2 separate regions of the Homo sapiens genome follow, and region 2 is linked to region 1. The links come from fine-mapping of genetic effects on gene expression. A gene starts in region 1. The other region holds a variant in brackets. All regions are shown on one strand. Distances are from middle to middle. Region 1 holds the start of PEBP4 (phosphatidylethanolamine binding protein 4). Region 2 overlaps PEBP4 (phosphatidylethanolamine binding protein 4).

Region 1 (2,903 bases):
AATTATTGAGCATTTACTATGTGCCAGGCACCTTACTGAGGGCTTAACCTGGTTGATTTCATTCTCATAATGATCTTGTGAGGAGGCTACTATTAGACTCTGTCCACTAGGGGAGATCTTGGGAATATGTTTTCTGGTTGGGGCAAGGGGGAGTCCTGGTTGTACTTCAGAGAACCTAATGATTGAGAAATGTGTTTAATATGTAGCCCCTAAGGGGGGCTTTTTGCTACAGGTTGGGATCCTGGAGGCAGGAATTGAGCCAGAAAGCAGACTATGCTGAAAGTAGTTTCTCTAAAGGTCTAGCTGCGTGTACTTTACAGCGATGATCTCATATTCCTTAGCAAGGCACCACGGTGACAGGAATTATTTTACTTGTTTGTGAAAAGGAAAAGTGGTGCATTCTAGGGAGACACAGTGGCCTCCCAGCATCCAGAGAGAGCTCAGAGCAGAAGCCAGGAGTCCTGAGTTGCTGGCACGTCTCTCCCACCCCCGCCTCTGAGAAGCAGAGAGCAGAGCTATTGGAAAGCCTGTTGCAAGCCGCCTTTATTCTTCTCCCTGCCCACTCAGGCTCAAACCAGAGTCCCACATGCACCTGGTGGCAGGACTGTTCCCCAAGGGAATGCAGGCGACAGTCCCCGGCTCCCCTTCCTCCCAGTGCACTGCTGGGGCAGGCCACCCCTTTCTGAGCCCCAAGCAGCTCCCCAGACCTCCTTCTCCAGATACGATTATTTTGGGAGAGTGCTGAGTGCAGCACAGCTGCAAGGTGCACCCAGACGCACCCTTCTGTCCTCAGCTGGCCCTTCGGAGCTGGCCCTTCGGAGCTGGCCTCGGTCTGGGGTGCACCTACCCCCACCCCCTGCAGCAGTCCCTCCTACACAAGGTCACTGTGTCCAACCACCTCCACCTTGGGGAAGCTCACAGGCTGTGGAGACAGGTGGTGGAAGAATGGGGGCCAGGAGAGTCAGAGCCGGTCTGAGGGGCACAGCCCAACTCCTAGCCCTGAGCCTGGGGTCACCAGCTTCCCAGGGCTTGCCTTACAGCCAAGGAGCAGGCTGGCCTTTGGCCAGCTGACCATCCCTGGGCCAACAGCAGGGACTGGACAAGGAGCTGCACCGAGGAGCTTATATAAGCACTTCTACTTTGCAGCCTGCTCTCTGCCCTGGCAGCCAGGACAAGAGTGACAACAAAGCTGTGTCCTGCCAGGGGAGGGGCCTCTGCCAGGAACGTACATTGAGTCCAACTTGGAAGAGGCCCAGTCCTCCCAAAGTACTTGTGTCCGGGTGGTGGACTGGATTAGCTGCGGAGCCCTGGAAGCTGCCTGTCCTTCTCCCTGTGCTTAACCAGAGGTCTCTATCCTGCCAAGTGGGCCCCTGGGGTCGGGGGCACAGGTAGTGGGCAGGAAGGCCCCTGCAGGGGATCCAGCCGCTCTAAAGTTCTTTCTGTTCCAGGTGCCCATGGGTTGGACAATGAGGCTGGTCACAGCAGCACTGTTACTGGGTCTCATGATGGTGGTCACTGGAGACGAGGATGAGAACAGCCCGTGTGCCCATGAGGCCCTCTTGGACGAGGACACCCTCTTTTGCCAGTAAGTCAGGGCAGGCTTGGAGGCGGGAGGCACAGAGGCTACCAGGCAGGTAGATGGCAGGGAGGGGTATATCCAGAACCAAGAAGCACCATCTCCTGAGCCTGATTTTATGGGAAGGCAGAACACGTGTCAGATCTGGAGACCACCTTGATGGAGGATGGCACTGAGAAAGGGATTTAGAAACAGACTCCTTCCTGCCTTCCAGAATGCACCTCTCCCAGGACCAGGAGGGCTGTGTATGTGGTCGGCTCTGCTTGGGCCCTCCAAACCTGGGGGGTCTTTGTGGGGGCAGGAGGCTGAGACCCTCAGAGAGAGACCCAGAGAGAGACCATCCCTCCCTGCAGCCTGAATGCCCCCTCTCCCCAGAACCCCAACAAAGAGGCATTTGAATGAAAGAAGGTGTATGATTAGACCCTTCCTGTGTGAGAGGTTTTTGTCAGTGATAGGACCCAGGAGCGTTTGTGCAGGGCCCTTTAGGGATCATGGCACTGGATGGAGTTGGGTGACGAGGCTGGCTTCTTCCCTTCCAAGGGCACAAGCTGCTTCTACTTTGGGTAAGCTGGAAAGCCTGGCGTTCGGCTCTCTCCTCACCAACTCTGCCGGTTAGAAAAGCAAGCCTTCATTTGTGTGGACTTGTGGGTCATCCTGAGGACTCCCCAGGCCAAACTGATGCCAAACCTCCCTGCCAGTTTGGTGGCTGAGGAGGGGGACACCCCACTGAGCCCACGTGTGAGAAATGAGAGAGGAGGAAAAAGAACTTTGACTACTTACTCTCTTCTGTACCTTTGAATTTTCACAAACATTACTGTTCATGAAAATGTTTGTTTTTCTTTTTAATTTTATTTAAAACATTTTTGACAAACATTACTTTTAGAACCATAAATACATGTCTTCTCTTAAAATTATGTAGTTGAATCCTTCTTAAAAAGTAACATTTTTGTTGGGTGAAGTGGCTCACATGTGTAATCCCAGCACTTTGGGAGGCCAAGGTGGAGGATCACTTGAGCCCAGGGGTTTGAGACCAGCCTGGGCAACATAGAGAGACTCTTTTCTCTACAAAACAGTTTAAAAACTAGCCAAGCATGCTGATGCACACCTGTCGTCCCAGCTACTCAAGAGGTTGAGGTGGGAGGATCGCTTAAACCCAGGAGGTCAAGGCTGGTCTGAGCCATGATTGCGCCACTGCATTCCAGCCTGGGCAACAGAGCCAGACCCTGCCTAAACAACAACAACAACAACAACAAAAAGTAACAAACTTTGTTCGTGTCAGTATATTTTGAAAAATCTTGTTAAATAGTTCTGGGTGTAGGCTGGGCAC
Region 2 (2,903 bases), 180 kb after region 1:
TTGTGGCAGAGGGAGAGCTCATGGGTAAGGCAGGCTCTCGGGATGTGAGTTCCTCCCCTTGTTCCCCAAATACATCCTGTGTGTCTTCCTCCTGTGTTACGGGCAGGAGATGGAGAACAGGAACGGGATCCTCTCACCTTGCTCTCAGGCAGAGGAGAGGCAGAAGGACAAATGGCTGTAGTCCCAGGCAGAGTGGTGGCCACAACACAGTAGGGTGAGGGGAGGGAATGCTGGGAGAAGGAAGGCTTCACAGAGGAAAGAAGTGTGAACTGGATTGGAAAGATAAAGAGAATCAGAGTAGTACACTTGAGACTGAGATCATCCATGAGCCAAGCTCACAAGGAACTTCATCAACTCTTCTCAGTTGAGCTAGACAGGGGCTCTGGAGGTCTCAGCCTGGGATCCGTGAAACTTTTAGCCATGGGGCCCCAGCCTCTGCCCCTGCCCTGAATCACCAGGGCTACCCCACATCCCTGCAGGGCTCACTCCCCCAATCCTCTGCGGGACCCAAGGCTGGGGACATGGTGACTCATCACACCACTCTCAGTGACACCTCCCCACCACAGTGCACAGGGTCCCCTAAGTCGAGAGGGCACTGGAGAATGTGGCCTGTCCCTGTCTCAAAAGCTTTCTGCCCCCAGGCCCGGGCATAACCCAGGAGAGAGCTGGGAAGATCTAGACGGGCTTTTCCATCCAACTTGAGCAAGTCCGAAGTCTCCAGAGAAATTCCAGCAAAGGGAAAAAAATATTCCCTTCCCTTCAGAATCAATTTTCTGAACACAGCCCCTCTTTGTTCTGAGGTGTAGACAAAAGAACATTAGACTATGAATCAGGAGACTTAGATCACGGGCCAGGACACCCGCATTCCATTTGCTGATCTGCTGCCGATTGGAACTCCCATCTCCGGCAAGTCATTAACCTCTCCAGAGCTTGTGTCCCCATCTGCAAACGCTACCCTCTCTGCCTCCTGGTGAAGGAGGATTAAGTGATACAGCAGTGCACAAGGGCCTGAAACCCCTAGAGTGGAGAGTGCTGGATACGGGTCCAGGACTGCTGTCACTGTCTAACAACCATGGCCCAACCCCCAAGTGACTCACCTGGCCTGTTTGCTCCCCACTCTCCCCATCCAAGGATGTAGGAGCTGTGCCTCTCTAAATGTTCCTCTTCTTCTGTCGTGCCCCCGTAGGAGGCTAAGCGTGACCTGAGACAGTGCATCGTCTGTTCTGCATTGTAAGAAGGCGATGTCTGCAAGAAGAGAGGACATGAAAAGGGGAGCTTGGTTAGGGGCACGAGGAACCTGCATGCGTGGGCTCCTCTGCCCTCCACTGACCCCAATTTTCGGCAGATGGCCTGGAGGCAGGGCTGGGCCCGCATCTGGCTGGGAACCGAGGCAGCAGGCTGACTCATACATGAGTCTTTTTCCACCGGCAGACCCTGTCATGGTGGCCTGTGGCTCCT[G/C]TCCAGGCTCTGACCGGAAGACCACAGTTAGGCAGTTCTAGAACTCAGGAGAAAACAGGTGAGTCTATCTCTGCATCCTCAAGGGAATTAGGGAGTCTGATTCTGCTCATCCCACCTCCCTCAGGTGCTACCAGTCACCAAGACTCCCTGGGCATCCCCCAGGGGCTTGTCTATGGCAAGAAGATTGCATGTTAATTTCCACTACACACTTTATCCCAAGTGATTTTATGTTCCCCTGACCAATGTCTACAATCAAATTGGGAGAGGGAGGCAGAATTCAAAGAACAACTTGAGTCTCTCAGGGAGCTGATCCTGGGAACACAGGGCAAGTATCTCTTTAAAAATACTCCCTGCACAGCAGGTCACACTGGCCTGCAGCCACAACCCCCAGGCTGTGATCTCACCAAGCTCCGAGAAGCCAAACAGGGTCAGGCTTGGCTGGTCCCCGAGTGAGCAGGGAGACCTCACAAGCAAAACACAGGTGTTACTGGTGATTCAGCGGGCCAGCCCCACCCTCCACGGAGTCTAGTTCTGCTCAGGTGTTGGAATTGCAACTGGGATGATTCAGGGAGCTCCTATCAGTACCTGGGCAGAGGAAAGGGGCGTGGTGCTGCCGGCAGGTGCTGAATGCTCTTTCTGGCCTCCATGTGTGACAAGTGTTGACACTCTTAAGAATCAGGGTGGATGCACTTCCTCCCTCCCTGTCCCCTGCCCATTTCCTAAGGCTGGTTGTTGTCAGCCATTGACCTAAATTCCTCACTTTGTCTCAACCAGATAAGGGATGGAGGAGGAAAAGGCAGCTCCGGAGGGGCTTCAGGCTCAGGAACCATTTAGCCCCCACTCCAAACAGCTGTGGTCTGGGGCTGCCATCAGGCTCCTGGCTCAGCCCCCAGGATGGTCCCTTCTGGTTTGGGAACAAGTAAGGATGAAACGGGTCCATAAAATGAGGGCCGAGGGCCGTCATTAGCCTGTTTTATGAGTACACAGATATTCATTACACCTCAACCCCGTCATTAGAGGCTCCAGCAAGAGCTCAGGCCCCTTCTTTATTACAGTAGAAACTGAGGGGGTTTCTCCCCCAAAGGGAGCTCTGCTTCTGCTTCTGGGAAGGAGGTCCTGCCCAGGAGGTCAGTAGCCTCCACTCTCAGGCAGGCCTCACTCTCACTGCCCTTGCTCACTCCCCAGCCCCAGCAGCTGGGCAGCCCAAGGGGAGGTCAGGTAGCCCAAGGAAGCACTGATAAGGGCCTGGGGCTTCTTGGGGACAGGAGGCTGGCATAAGAGGCCTGGGCACTGGAGTCTGGCATAAGAGAGCATTGGCTCCCCAGCACACAGCCCTTCACCGCCTGCCCCAACCAAGCACCAGTAGCTGGCAGAGAGTCTATGCAGCCTCCTCCAGAAAGCCCTCCCTGTTCCCCCAAGGCTCTCTGCGCTTCCTCTTCCTAGCG

The links. PIP is the estimated chance that this variant, and not a neighbour inherited with it, causes the effect. A credible set is the group of variants that fine-mapping cannot tell apart.
Region 2: its variant is the best candidate, but not a certain one, in a credible set for the expression of PEBP4 in lung (TOPMed, PIP 0.52).

The regions. Positions count from the first base shown.
Region 1 is chr8:22,926,266-22,929,168 of GRCh38, reverse strand. It overlaps PEBP4 (phosphatidylethanolamine binding protein 4), which reads left to right and starts at 1,255. Exons shown (of 7, transcript NM_144962.3): 1 at 1,255-1,346; 2 at 1,449-1,585. The coding sequence starts at 1,455.
Region 2 is chr8:22,742,936-22,745,838 of GRCh38, reverse strand. All of the region lies in intron 4 of PEBP4 (phosphatidylethanolamine binding protein 4), which reads left to right. It overlaps LOC124901908 (a long non-coding RNA gene), which reads right to left. Exons shown (of 3, transcript XR_007060855.1): 2 at 1,098-1,245. Among named protein-coding and RNA genes, the nearest start is that of EGR3, 51 kb to the right of the region's middle. RefSeq lists enhancers at 800-1,607, 646-1,845 and a silencer at 1,896-1,955. The variant G/C (reference allele first, on the strand shown) is at 1,459.